4 linked regions of the Homo sapiens genome follow. The protein of the gene in region 2 interacts with the protein of the main gene of each other region in a pairwise test. Each region holds a gene or a part of one and is shown on either strand. Other genes may lie near its edges. The genes, in order: ARMC1, EPS8, TEX28 and GULP1.

Region 1 (3,500 bases), on a different chromosome or scaffold from region 2:
CTATTCGACAAAACCGCCATCGTCATCATGGCCCGTTCTCAATGAGCTGTTGGGTACACCTCCCAGACAGGGTGGCCGCCGGGCAGAGGGGCTCCTCACTTCCCAGAAGGGGCGGCTGGGCAGAAGCGCCCCCCACCTCCCGGACGGGGTGGCTGGCCGGGCGGGGGCTGCCCCCCGCCTCCCTCCTGGATGGGGCGGCTGCCGGGCGGAGACGCTCCTCACTTCCCAGACGGGGCAGCTGCCGGGCGGAGGGGCTCCTCACTTCTCAGACGGGGCGGCTGCCGGGCGGAGGGGCTCCTCACTTCTCAGACAGGGCGGCTGCCGGGTGGAGGGGCTCCTCACTTCTCAGACAGGGCGGCCGGGCAGAGACGCTCCTCACCTCCCAGACGGGGTCGCGGCTGGGCAGAGGCGCTCCTCACATCCCAGACGGGGCGGCGGGGCAGAGGCGCTCCCCACATCTCAGACTATGGGTGGCCGGGCAGAGACGCTCCTCACTTCCTAGACGTGATGGCGGCCGGGAAGAGGCGCTCCTCACTTCCCAGACTGGGCAGCCGGGCAGAGGCACTCCTCACATCCCAGACGATGGGCGGCCAGGCAGAGACGCTCCTCACTTCCCAGACGGGGTGGCGGCCGGGCAGAGGCTGCAATCTCGGCACTTTGGGAGGCCAAGGCAGGCGGCTGGGAGGTGGAGGTTGTAGCCAGCCGAGATTACGCCACTGCACTCCAGCCTGGGCACCATTGAGCACTGAGTGAACCAGACTCCGTCTGCCATCCCGGCACCTCGGGAGGCCGAGGCTGGCAGATCACTCGTGGTTAGGAGCTGGAGACCAGCCCGGCCAACACAGCGAAACCCCCTCTCCACCAAAAAAATACGAAAACCAGTCAGGCGTGGCAGCGCGTGCCTGCAATCGCAGGCACTCGGCAGGCTGAGGCAGGAGAATCAGGCAGGGAGGTTGTAGTGAGCCGAGATGGCAGCAGTACAGTCCAGCTTCCGCTCGGCATCAGAGGGAGACCGGGAAGAGGGGAGAGGGGAGAGGGAATTACTGTTACAGTTTTTATGCAAAACAGAAAGATAATTTATGTTTTAGTATTTTAATATTTTTTGTCACTATTGCTTCATTAAGCATATTAAACAGTTTTGAAATAATCCAGGTTTTCAAAAAATGTATGACAGTTATTGGATGTTTTATTATGTGTTATGATTCATTTTCTAGTTGATGCAAAACTATTGACAATGGAAAGGAGTAACAATAATACAGTTTTTCTTTCTTCTTTTTTTTTTGTGACGGAGTCTTGCTCTTGTTGCCCACGCTGGAGTGCAATGGCATGATCTCGGCCCACTGCAACCTCCGCCTCCTGGGTTCAAGTGATTCTCCTGCCTCCACCGCCTGAGTAGCTGGGATTACAGGCACCCACCACCACACCTGGCTACTTTATTTTATTTTATTTTATTTATTCATTTTTTCTTTTTAAGAGGGAGCCTCATTCTGTCACCCAGGCTGGCGTGCAGTCGTAGGATCTTGGCTCGCTGCAACCTCCATCTCCCAGGTCCAAGTGATTCTCCTGCCTCAGCCCCCTGAGTAGCTGGGATTATAGACACCTGCCACCACGCCCAGCTAGTTTTTGTGCTTTTTTAGTAGAGACGGGGTTTCGCCATGTTGGCCAGGCTGGGCTCGAACTCCTAACCTCAGGTGATCCACCCACCTCAGCCTCACAAAGTGTTGGAATTACAGGCATGAGCCACTGTACCCGGCCCTGTTTTTTTTTTTTTTTTTTTAACTTAAGTTCGTAAGTTTCTCTAATCATTGTCTCTTCATGCTCTTTATAACTTGTTCTTGGTTAATATTTAAAATATCTGAGAACTGCAGTGACTTTTCAATAAACTCTAAAATAGCTATCAATAAAAATGCTGAGGCAACTAATACAAATTAGTCCTTTTGATAGCTTTCTGTAACACACGGCTAAAGTCACCCAAAGTAACTTATCTCTGTGGTCAACAGTGGCTCAGAAAAGCACTTGATATAGTAATTGAGTGTCTGGAATACTGTCAGATTATCACCCCTGGAATTAAAGCTCTAAGTAGCTAGAACATATACAATCTGAGTATCAGAAATTGAAGTATTCCTACTCATTCACTAAATAACTTGCAAACATTTTTGTTAGGTTCTATGGAAGGTACAAAAAGGATACCTTCCTCCTCTTAAAGAGTTCATATACTTATAAAAGAAATAGAAAATTAAGATCAGTAGTATAAGTACAAGCATAGTACTCTGAATGCAAAGGGAGAATTGGGTTATTAGGTAGAGGCATTATATAGAAGGTGTTGGTCAAGCTGACCCTTCAAGCATTGAAATAAGAGTTGGAAAGCCTGCAGTCTGGGTGAAGCTCTTCCAGCTAAGGAAAGACCTGAACAAAACTTAAGGGTAGAAAGCATTCTAGAACAAAGAACATATAAAAATGCATGGTCTTTGTAGGAGATGGCCAAGTGTCATAGTCAACCCAAAGAATAATAGAAGGACAAAATGAGCTGATGGAGATAGCCAAATGGGGCCAGATTTTAAGGCCTTGAGTGTACATTAAAGGGTTTGGACTTAGTTGAGCCCATTGATAGGTGAAATGAGGATTCTTTTCTTACAGTTACATGTACTTACTCTTTGTTCAGTTCCACTAATAAGAGCCATTAGACTGTGCTGTCCAGTATGGTTAGCCACTCACTCTGTTTGGCAATTTAAATTAATTAAAGGTAAATTAATTTTTTTTAGTTGCACTAGCCACATTTCAAGTGCTCAGTAGCCTCATGTGAGTGGAGAGTGCAGCTATAGAACATTTCTATCATTGCAGAAAGATTATTGGACAGCACAGTCCCCTAGATGTTGATGTGAGGATCTGTAGTAGGATTTAAAAGCTTAAGAATGAAAACTTTTGTTAGAGCTGTGGTTTTATGATAAACACATAATTTGTAATATGTAAAAAATGTAAATTAAAAAATTGGTTTTAACATACAAAGAAATCTTGAAATTAGTTGATAGTATGAATGATCCTTTTCAAATTTGGTTTCTCCTTTTGGATTTTTATATGTTGTATTTTCTTAAAAGTCAAGGTACTTTCAAATTGAGAGTTGAATGTTAGTGATAATACAGGAACATGTTACAACCTGATCTTGTTAGTTGATTTTGTATTTGATTATTTTTATTAAACGTGTGGTTTTTTTTTTTTTTGAGATGGAGTCTCCCTCTGTCACCCAGGCTGGAGCCCAGTGGTGTGATCTGAGCTTGCTGCAACTTCTGCCTCCCGGGTTCAAGTGATTCTCCTCTCTCAGACTCCTGAGTAGCTGGGATTACAGGCATGCGCCACCACACCCAGCTAATTTTTGTATTTTAGTAGAGATGGGGTTTCAGTATGTTGGTCAGGCTTGAACTCCTGACCTCAAGTGATCCACCTGCCTTGGCCTCCCAAAGTGCTGGGTTTACAGGCATGAGCCACTGTGCCTGGCCAAATGT
Region 2 (2,974 bases):
AATTTCATGCCAAAGCCTACATTCTTTCATTTGAGTCCAAGTATAATTTTCATGAAACTATTAAGAGCTGTGAGATGTAACAGTTGGAAACTACTACCCGTATATAGCACATTTTAAGTCTAAAATAGGATATTGGAAGCTTAAGTATAAAGCAATCTAGAAAACATGACTCTCCTGCTTTCATACAGACCATTGTGATTAAATACTTTTCCAGGCTCTCTATTTTCAGTGATCTCTACCTAATGTATCTTTCCCGATTATTGAGATGTATTACTAGACCTAACACACACAGCCAGGGTTTTACAATCTTATAACCTATACGTTATTAGAATCTCCAAAAAAAAAAAAATATTAAGAATAGGCAAGGATTCTGGCCTCTTAAGGCTCTTACTCACTCAGAAGCTAATTTCCATTGTTATGTCAAAATTAAATTTCCTATAGAATTAGTCAATACATATAAAATGAGAACATTATGCTTTTTGTCAAGTTTCCAAAAGTATGTGCTCAAGCTTCACATCATATGAGCATTTATAACAAATTAACCTTCTGGAAACTGTCATTGATGATCTCAGTGACAAATTTACAAAAGCAGAGTTAAATTTAATTCAGCTCTGTTAAGAAAGGGAAATTGGCCAATATGGACATAAATAGTTGTTTCCAGAGCTTTCAATTTGCAGAAAAACACCACCTTAGGTTGACAAGTCATACCTCCAATGCAGCTTTTTGTACAGTGATTTGGCTATAGACTCTCGCCCCTTCAGGGCAGACTGTCCTCAGTTCATCCTTATTGAGAGAGAAAAGTTGTGCACCATTTAATACTCCAAGACTATTGACAGTCCTAAAAAAAAAAAAAGGAAAAAGAAACTGAGCATTAAAAATATTGCCTACAAACAAAGGAGAAAATTATCTGTTCCTGCTAGTAACTTCTCTTTTCTAAGCGTTCCATACCCTGGAACCCTTATTAAATGCCACTACAGTCTTTATAGTTAGGGCAATGACAAGTTTCTTTCATGATGATGACCCTGAGGCTATACAGATTATTAATTACAAAGTATCAAAAATGAGCCAATTCGGTTTAGGGTCATTGTTTAATACCAATTCTTGGGATTTGGTGTTTTATAGAAGGAATAGATAACTTTCTAGTAACCTGGCAATTGACTAACCATTGTATCTCATTTTTCAATCATGCTGGGTAGGTGAGTTTATAATATGTCAAGGTCCCTTGAATATGTATTATTCTAATAGTTCATTGTGCCAAATACATATGAAATGTTTATAGACTTTTAGATAGATAAATAGAACCTTTACTATGGGTTTATTAAAGGAAAAGTTCTATTAAGATTATAATTGATGCTAGGTAACACTATTTTTTATTTGCCAGAGACACTATATCCTGCAGCAGGAGGAAAGCTTATGCTCTATGTCCTATGTGGTCTAGGAAGTTCAGCTAAGACCATGGTCCTACCTAGGTTACATCACAGTAATCTGATGGAGAAAAGAAGCTACTGGGCCTCAAAGCTGCCAATAGTTTGCTTAAAGAACTAATAATGAACAGATACTACCAATTCGAAAATGGGGTGGCATCAGAATAATTATTTATGCTTATTTTAGTTCTTTTTCAGCTATGAACAGCTATAGTGAGTTCTTGAGTATGGCACAAAGTATGCAGTCTGTGCCCTTATGTTTTATAACAGTTATCTGTGACATCTAACTAAGCAAATTGAAAACAATGCATGTTGTACACACAGAATTGCAAAGTATTCACAGAGAGACTCACACAGGGTTGAATCCCTTTGACTGTAACCACGTCTTCACATCCTCTGGTGTGGAGTCGTAAGTGATATTGATAACTGGCACGTTCTGCCGTGGCACATGGAATTTCTTCTGAGCGGCACTCCGACCAATGGTCAGTCTGTGGATGAGTTCATCTTGCACTTCCTCCATCTGAGATTTCCTTCCTAGACACCAACAGGGAGTAGGTTCTTTTTGAAAATCCCTAATATTACATCACCCTCTCTAGAACCCCAATCTCTATAATCCTTGACCCCAGTAGGACCTACAGTCTAGTGTTCCTACCATCTTTCCTCACTTTTATCCTCGCCTGGTATAAATGCCATGATCAATTATTAAAATAACTCCCTGGCTCTTCTCTAGTCTCTTCATTGTACTCCTTTGGCAAAACCCCAATCCTGGTTAAACCTAACTTTCTGCGTATTCTGTGCCTGCACCTGCACAGCTGAATATAACACAACAATGCTGAATGATCTCATGTTAAATTCATGATTATGAACCTTAACTTGGCTGTTAATGCTTCCTGACAATTATACTACATTTCCTTAGACTGGTGGCTCTCAACTGGGGACAGTTTTGGCCCCAGAGGACATTTGGGAATATCTGGAGACACTTTTGGTCGTCACAATTGAGGGAGAAAAAGGGGAAAGGCTGCTGCTGTCACACAGTGGGTAGAAGCCTGGGATGCACACAACATTCTATAATGTCAGCCTCTCCTACAGCAGAGAATAACCCAGCCTCAAAGGCCAAGAAGTCCTGCCTAAGGTCATGTAACTGCCCACTGTCTTAGACAAGTATTGAATATATTCTACTTTCTCTCTACAAACTTCTAACCCTATTCCCCAATCCTCACCTTGAGCTGATCTCATTTCCTAATTTATGAATAAAATAGTTAGAAGAAAACCTCCGTAAGTTCCTCTAGTAGTTCTTCCTAACAGCACTTTCCCCATATGTTCTGCCTGCCTTCCTATTATGTTATATAAGAGCTGTTTCCCTGCTCCCAAGGCTAACTATCCATGTATGCACTAGGCCTCAAGTTCTCTGCCTATTCAAATACTGAGTCATTTCTCCCTTATTTATCCTGTTATTAATTTTCCTTCTTCACTGAATCAGTTCATCAGCCTGCAAACATGCTATTATTTTATGATTTCTGTTACCTTTAAACAAGTCCTTTTTACCATGT
Region 3 (3,597 bases), on a different chromosome or scaffold from region 2:
GAGGCACACATGTAGAGCAAGGAGTCAGACGCTGAAAAGGAGGGGAGAGGGGCCCTGAAGATGAGCATCACCTCCTCAGTCTGTGTCGGGCCCATCTTGAATGCACAAATCTTGCGTGTGTAAGTATCCATGCATATGTGGAAGTGTTTTATGGAGTCATAACGTGTCCAATTCTCCCACACTTTGCGGCTCACAGAGCACCGTATTGTGATTTCTTGTTTCCCAACGTAGGCGGAACACACCAGGAGCCCCAGCGCAACCCTCCCCTCCAATGTGCCTTCATGCCGGTCCCTGTCATCCAGCGAAGACGGCCCCAGTGGCCCTTCCAGCCTCGCAGATGGAGGCCTAGCCCACAACTTACAGGATAGTGTCAGGCACCGCATCCTCTACCTCTCAGAGCAGCTGAGAGTGGAGAAGGCCAGTCGGGATGGCAACACTGTGAGCTACCTCAAGCTGGTATCCAAAGCAGACCGGCACCAGGTGCCGCACATCCAGCAGGCCTTTGAGAAGGTGAACCAGCGCGCCTCTGCCACCATCGCCCAGATCGAGCACAGGCTCCACCAGTGTCACCAGCAGCTCCAGGAGCTGGAGGAAGGCTGCAGGCCCGAGGGCTTACTGCTGATGGCAGAAAGCGACCCAGCCAACTGCGAGCCACCCAGTGAGAAGGCCCTGCTTTCAGAGCCCCCCGAGCCAGGTGGGGAAGACGGGCCGGTCAACCTGCCTCATGCCAGCAGGCCCTTCATCTTGGAGAGTCGCTTCCAGAGCTTACAGCAGGGGACGTGCTTAGAGACAGAGGATGTGGCCCAGCAACAAAACCTGCTGTTGCAGAAGGTAAAGGCAGAGCTGGAAGAAGCCAAGAGGTTCCACATCAGCCTCCAGGAGTCCTATCACAGCCTAAAGGAGAGGTCTCTGACTGACCTGCAGCTGTTGCTGGAGTCCCTTCAGGAGGAGAAGTGTAGGTGAGGCCTTGGCTCTGGGGACTGGAAGCAGAGGAGGAACCGCTCCCAGGAGCCACCTATGGGAGGGTGAAAGGGAGCCAGGACAGGAGCCTGGAGAGCCAGGGTGAGGGGCCAGTTGGAAGAGCAGGTCCATGCTTCTTTTAGCGACTGGGCCCTGCAGTGGGGCGAGCCAGCCCTCTCCCTGCAGTCCCACACCTGCCTTGACCCTTGCTAGCGAAAATGCTCCAGCTTGGCAGCCCCTGCCGGGTGGTTGCAGCGGCATAGCGGCTGGCCCTGACCCTGTGGTGGCAGGGGACAACATGGGGGTGGCAAGAGTCCGGTAGACACCTGGCACTAGTTAGGGAGGTGGCGTCCTTTGGTCCCAGTCGGCTGGGAAGGTGGGAGTCAGGACCGGAGTCGCCTCGCCAGCTCTGGTCTCTTCACATGTGCTCCTAGCTGAGCTGGGGCACAGGCCGGGTCTCAGATACTTATTTCAAAAATGACTGCCTTCTGGTGAATGCTTTCTCCGCACCGTGCAGTAGCTCGATTTTCTTTTTCTTTTTTTTCTTTTGAGATGGAGTCTCACTCTGTCGCCAGACTGGAGTGCAGTGGCACGATCTCGGCCCACTGCAACCTCCACCTCCCGGGTTCAAGCGATTCTCCTGCCTCAGCCTCCCGAGTAGCTGGGAATACAGGCGTGCACCAGCACATCCGGCTATTTTTTGTATTTTTAGTACAGGCGGGGTTTCACCATGTTGACCAGGATGGTCTCAATCTATTGACCTCGTGATCCGCCTGCCTCAGCCTCCCAGAGTGCCGGGATTACTGGTGTGAGCCACCTCACCCTGCCCTAGCTCGATTTTCTTTCCCTCTAAGATAAGGCTAGGGCCTACCAATTGGAGGAAAAAAAAAAAAAAAAAAAAAAAGGCAAACCCAATCTCTCAACGGATTCTCTCCATTCCTATTGGGACCGTTCTCTGGGTTTCCATGGGCCCTCAGGGGGTGCCACATTCTGTCCCCCTCGCTGCAGTCTGTGGCTAATTAACGCCAGTCCCTCCAGCGTCCTGGCTAGGGAGGCAGCGATTCCCTTAGGTGAGCCAAGATTCTCAGCATTTGCATGAAAAGAAGAACTCCGCAGTCCTTTTAGTGCCTGATGCAGGGGAAGCGGCGTGTGGGAATCATCCTCTTTAGTTTCCCCAGGGAAATCTTGCCAGCGTTTACATGGCCTAAGAATCTGTTAAAGGACAATCAAAGAATATTACAGGGCAACCACTGTCAATGAGATGACTAGTCAGAGTCACAGGCGTCTCTTGCAGATTATTTTCATAGGACATGGCAACCAAATCTAAAATCTTGGGAGCATCAAAGACCCTTTTGTGAAAATCACACTTACCCGGTCAGCTTTCTATTAAGCAACAGCAGAACTTGGTGGCAGTTACAAACTTCCCCGTATGTTTCCAAGCCACAGGGGCCAATGAGAATGCTGTGCTCAGGTAAACTCTTAACCCCTCTCAAATCCGAGTCTTTCGCCCGCTCTTGATACAGCGGTGACTACCGGGGAGCAGGGCAATACCTCTGTCTCTCCCCCTCTCAGACTTTTGCTGCAAATTCTAGAAGCCTGCACTTCTGACCCGGTACCCCCCATTGGACTGTGACATGGGATGTCTGGTTGTTTGCTGCAGCAGCGAGCCTACCCTTACTAATGTTCATCGTGAGCAGAAAAGCAGGTCTACAGGGCCCAAGCAGGTCTACAGGAGGAGAAAGGGCTGCTGATGATTTTTCACTGTTGTCACGGGCTCGTAACTGAGCTGGGGCACCAGGTTAAGCAGCCTTGTTCTTTGGCCCTCAGACGCCTACTTTATGGTTGGGGAAGCAGAGTCTCACGGAGGCACAAGCAGGCTACGTGGCTGCTAAGTGCGGACCTGAGAGCATTTCACCACACCCTGGCTGTGTGGCTAAGTTAGATGCAGGGGACACAGGAGTTCATGGCATTTTAAAAACATATACTTCCGTAAAATCTTCTTCAAAACTTTTACATGATCTGGACACAGAAGTGTTTCAACCAGCCAGGCTCCCTGTGACTGTTGCGTCCCCTCTGGTGCATCACAAACTGAGAATCCATACTGCAAGTCCTGTGCTGTTTATCACAGTTAAATCCGTTTGCTTTCAGGAGGGCTGTTGTGGTTTTTATCATTATGGTTTCTTTTTAATTTGGTCTCGGCATGTCTCTACTGAGAGTGGCCATAGCCGAGATACCCAGTTTCTAGGAGATCCCTGACCCGTGGGAAAGTTAGGTTCGGATGTGTGTGTCAGGGGAGCCACAGTGAGGAGGCAGACGAAAATGCATGAAACAGCAGAAATGGGCTGGGCGTGGGGGCTCACGCCTGTAATCCTAGCACTTTGGGAGGTTGAGGTGGGCAGACTGCTTGAGCTCAGGAGTTTGAGACCAGCCTGGGCAACATAGTGAGACCCGGTATCTACAAAAACATCAAAAAATTAGCTGGGCGTGATGGCGCGTGCCTGTAGTCACAGCTACTCAGGAGGCTGAGCGGGAGCGGGGATCCCTTGAGCCCGGGAGGTTGAGGCTGCAGTGAGTCATGATTGCACCACTGCACTCCATTCTGGGTGACAGAGCAAGACCCTGTGTCAAAAAAAAAAA
Region 4 (3,597 bases), on a different chromosome or scaffold from region 2:
GTAAACTTTTCTTTAAAATTATTTTATTTGGATATCTGAAGATCTGTATATTATGTCATCTTCTGGTATATTACAAATGGTAAATAGATGATACATTGATAGATAATGACAGATAGAAAGAGAGTTACATGTGGAAATGTTTGATACCATACGGTACTTTTAAATTTTATCAGTTCATTCTGCTAGTAAACCAGTATCACTTCAATTACCCTGAAAATACTATTTGTCAATGTGTTATCAATATTGGAAAAGCAGAATAGCAGCCAAAGTAAAACAGAGGTCAATCACTATTTTAATAATAAAGTGTTAGTATATGACTTACAATAATATCTATCTCCATATTGACTTTTTAAGGATCCTTACATATTATAAGGTTTCTTGATTTTCTTTCTTCCTCAGATAAAATTTCCCACACCTGTTGAGCTTCAAACTTCTTAATAAAAATGAGACTTTATTTACTTATGTAGTGATGGGAATTATCATAAGCTAACGTCACACAAAAGAATGATTAAATAATTAAAGTATTATTCACCATATGCTTTTTATACGAAAGATTTTGATGAATTTTCTTATTTTGAAATAGAAAAGCATATCAAGGAAAGAAAAATCACTACATTTTGAGGTATGTCTTTTTTTCTATCTATACATTTTTAAAAATGATTTTAATGATAATATGAATATATATTTATGCCATATAATTTTCTTATGTAAGTAATATATTACATATAGTTTTCTATCTTCCTCTTTTCATCTTTGCAGACCCTGATTATTTTAAATTCCCACAAAACTAATTTATTATGACTATATAAAATGCTATTAATTTTTATGATTGTTTCCATCGTAAAAATGCATTTTACGTTGATTTGAAAAAAAATCGTTCAGCATTTTAAAATTATGAATAATGTTGACTAGGTATTTTTATTCGCAGAGATTGAACACATTCATACTTATTTTTTCATCAGAATAGATTGCTTTAAAGTTTTGATATCAAACAGAAATAAAAGTATTAATAACAAGCTACCCTTTAAAGAGACTGCTAGGCCATAGTTACCTCTGAACTAACTCTGGACTGCCAACAATTTACAGTGCTTGTTTTATCACACTTTCAGTTGTATTGATTGATTATTAGTTTAAAAAATAATCTGCTAGATTAAAATAGCATTACAGTTCTTTATTTGATTTATATGTTTACTTTGATTAGACAGAACATGTCTACATATGTGTAAGCCACTTGTGGTCTTCTTTTGTGAACTAGTGCTTTTTTATTTATCTGTTGATTCTTTAGTTTCCTAGCCATTTGTCTAATTGCTTTAATTATGTATATGTAATGTATTTATATATTTTTAGACAGTAAATTTTAAAAAATTGGATACTATATGTCCGTATTTTTCTTTTCCTTATAAAATTTTCTTTTCAATTCAAAAGTCTGATGAATATTCAATAATATTTTAAATATTTTAAAATGTTGATTACTTCTGAAATTTATCTCGGCATTTGCTGTAAGTTTCAGCAGTACATTGATCTTCTCCCAGAGTACTAGCTAGCTGACTTAACACCACTCATACATGATTCTTTCATCATTCATGAACTTGCCATGCTTGTTTTTTAATGTATTAAATTATTATAGCTCACATGTTACAGTGTGGGCTATCAATACTATTCCACTTATTTTCCTGTTGGTGACATGTACTGGACAGTTTAAATTATGTCAAATCAAATAGCTACATTATTGATTTCAAATAGATGTTTAATTTTCTAACTGCTTATACTGAAATATGGTCTAACATTTCTGCATAAATGCTTACATGCATGAGATGTTTCTGTGATTTCAAACTTAATAATTCGATTCTCTTAAAAATAGCTTAGTCACAATACTCTGTAAATGAAAGATGAAAACTAAATGTCTCACTAGGCTTATTAACTCAATATGGTGTTCACAACCCATTGTACTATATTAAGTTTTTATATGATATGCAAAGATAGCTAAATGTCTGCATTAGATTCATTAGGCTAGCACGATTAATAATAAAAGCCATCATAGACTTTAGATGAAGAAAATATTATTTTACTTTTGTTAAAGTGACCTTGCAAGTAAATATTGGACTAAAAGAAACAATCATGGCCAAGTATGGTGGCTCATGCCTGTGGTCCAAGCACTTTGGGAGGTCTAAGTGGGTAGATCGCTTGAGCCCAGCAGTTCAAGCCCAGTCTGGACAACATGATGAAACCCTGTTTTTAACAAAAAATACAAAAATTAGCCACGCGTGGTAGTGCACACTTGTAGTCTCAGCTACTCAGGAAGCTGAGGAGGGAAGATTGCTTGAGCCCGGGCGGTGGAGGTTGCAGTGAGCCAAGATCATGCCACTGCACTCCAGCTTGGGTAGGGCGATAGAGTGAGACTCTGCCTCAAAAAAAAAAAGAAAAGAAAGGAAACAATGAAGTGAACAATGCAATAGTGACTAAGTCACTGAAAAATAATCTTAAAATGTGGTTTATAAAACCTCTCTAAACATAACTAATTATCAGATATACCCATATGAAGCTGTTGTTTGAATTTTTATTAAATAAGGCATGCAAATTTTAAGGTTTCAGCTTTAAAAATTTGTAAGTTGTTTAAAATTATTATAAAAATAATATACCAACCATCTCTGGCGCTACCCACCATGAAAGCAGTAAAGAATTTAAAAAGACATTAAGAAAATATTAGAAACAGCAAAAGCAAAAACACCACGGTTTAACATTGAGTGTCACCATCACTCAATCATCCCAATACATTGTGTCTCACACTTGGTTTCAACAAAATCTGGAAATAGAGGCTTATCCTTAAAACTCCATAATTTTTTTTCCAATTTTGGGAAAATCTAAAAAATTTTTAGAGAAGTACTCTGTATGACCTGTGCAACCCTTGAGAATAAATACTACCACATAAATATTTCTTTGTTACTACAAAAGCATTAGTACCAGATAGTACATGTCCAATGGGTAAAACTAATGTAAAAGAAAAGGAATTGATTTCATATGAAATACAGCATTCTTGCTAAATTATCATGCGCCATTTGAAAGTTTCATAGCGTTTGAAATATAGAAAAGAACTAGGAAATCTGTGCCATCAGATAGAATACATGTTGAAATCAATAGAAATTTGATAAGGTGGTTTTAGCTTTAACCAAATAAGATCATCCGTCCTGTATTGGTGTTGCAATTTGGCTTTCATTTAATTTATAATTTATTGAATTCATAATTTTATAAAAACCATAAGGACAAGTTGTTTATAACATTTTTGTCAATATTTAAAAATTGTAAGTTAATACTAAGGATCTAAAACAATTTTTATGTAAAAGGGGATTAAGAATCATTCAACTTGAGAAACACTGTTTTAATAGATTCTTTGAAAACCTCAAGACATATGTTAAGTAATTCAACTTTTAAATTCAGGCATGTTATTACATCTAGAACAATAATGAATTCATGTACTACCTAGAAAATAAGATAGCTACACAGCTGCAGTCAAAAATGAGTAAAAGGGCATTTAAATTAACTTTCTAAGAAGGATTGCAATTATCAGTGATAGATCAGTGTTCACCCATAATTGTTTTT

The links.
Region 1: the proteins of EPS8 (region 2) and ARMC1 interact in a two-hybrid assay, tested with the Homo sapiens proteins (one large-scale study listed by BioGRID and IntAct).
Region 3: the proteins of EPS8 (region 2) and TEX28 interact in a two-hybrid assay, tested with the Homo sapiens proteins (one large-scale study listed by BioGRID and IntAct).
Region 4: the proteins of EPS8 (region 2) and GULP1 interact in a two-hybrid assay, tested with the Homo sapiens proteins (one large-scale study listed by BioGRID and IntAct).

What each region holds. Positions count from the first base shown.
Region 1 is NC_000008.11:65,613,678-65,617,177, reverse strand, and holds part of ARMC1 (armadillo repeat-containing protein 1), read left to right. Parts: intron 1-3,500.
Region 2 is NC_000012.12:15,622,450-15,625,423, forward strand, and holds part of EPS8 (epidermal growth factor receptor kinase substrate 8), read right to left. Parts: intron 1,959-2,974; coding exon 1,778-1,958; intron 839-1,777; coding exon 709-838; intron 1-708. UniProt on the Homo sapiens protein: Signaling adapter that controls various cellular protrusions by regulating actin cytoskeleton dynamics and architecture. Depending on its association with other signal transducers, can regulate different processes.
Region 3 is NC_000023.11:154,285,042-154,288,638, reverse strand, and holds part of TEX28 (testis-specific protein TEX28), read left to right. Parts: intron 1-231; coding exon 232-959; intron 960-3,597.
Region 4 is NC_000002.12:188,588,797-188,592,393, reverse strand, and holds part of GULP1 (PTB domain-containing engulfment adapter protein 1), read right to left. Parts: exon of another isoform or gene 2,655-3,597; coding exon of another isoform or gene 2,644-2,654; intron 1-2,643. UniProt on the Homo sapiens protein: May function as an adapter protein. Required for efficient phagocytosis of apoptotic cells. Modulates cellular glycosphingolipid and cholesterol transport. May play a role in the internalization and endosomal trafficking of various LRP1 ligands, such as PSAP.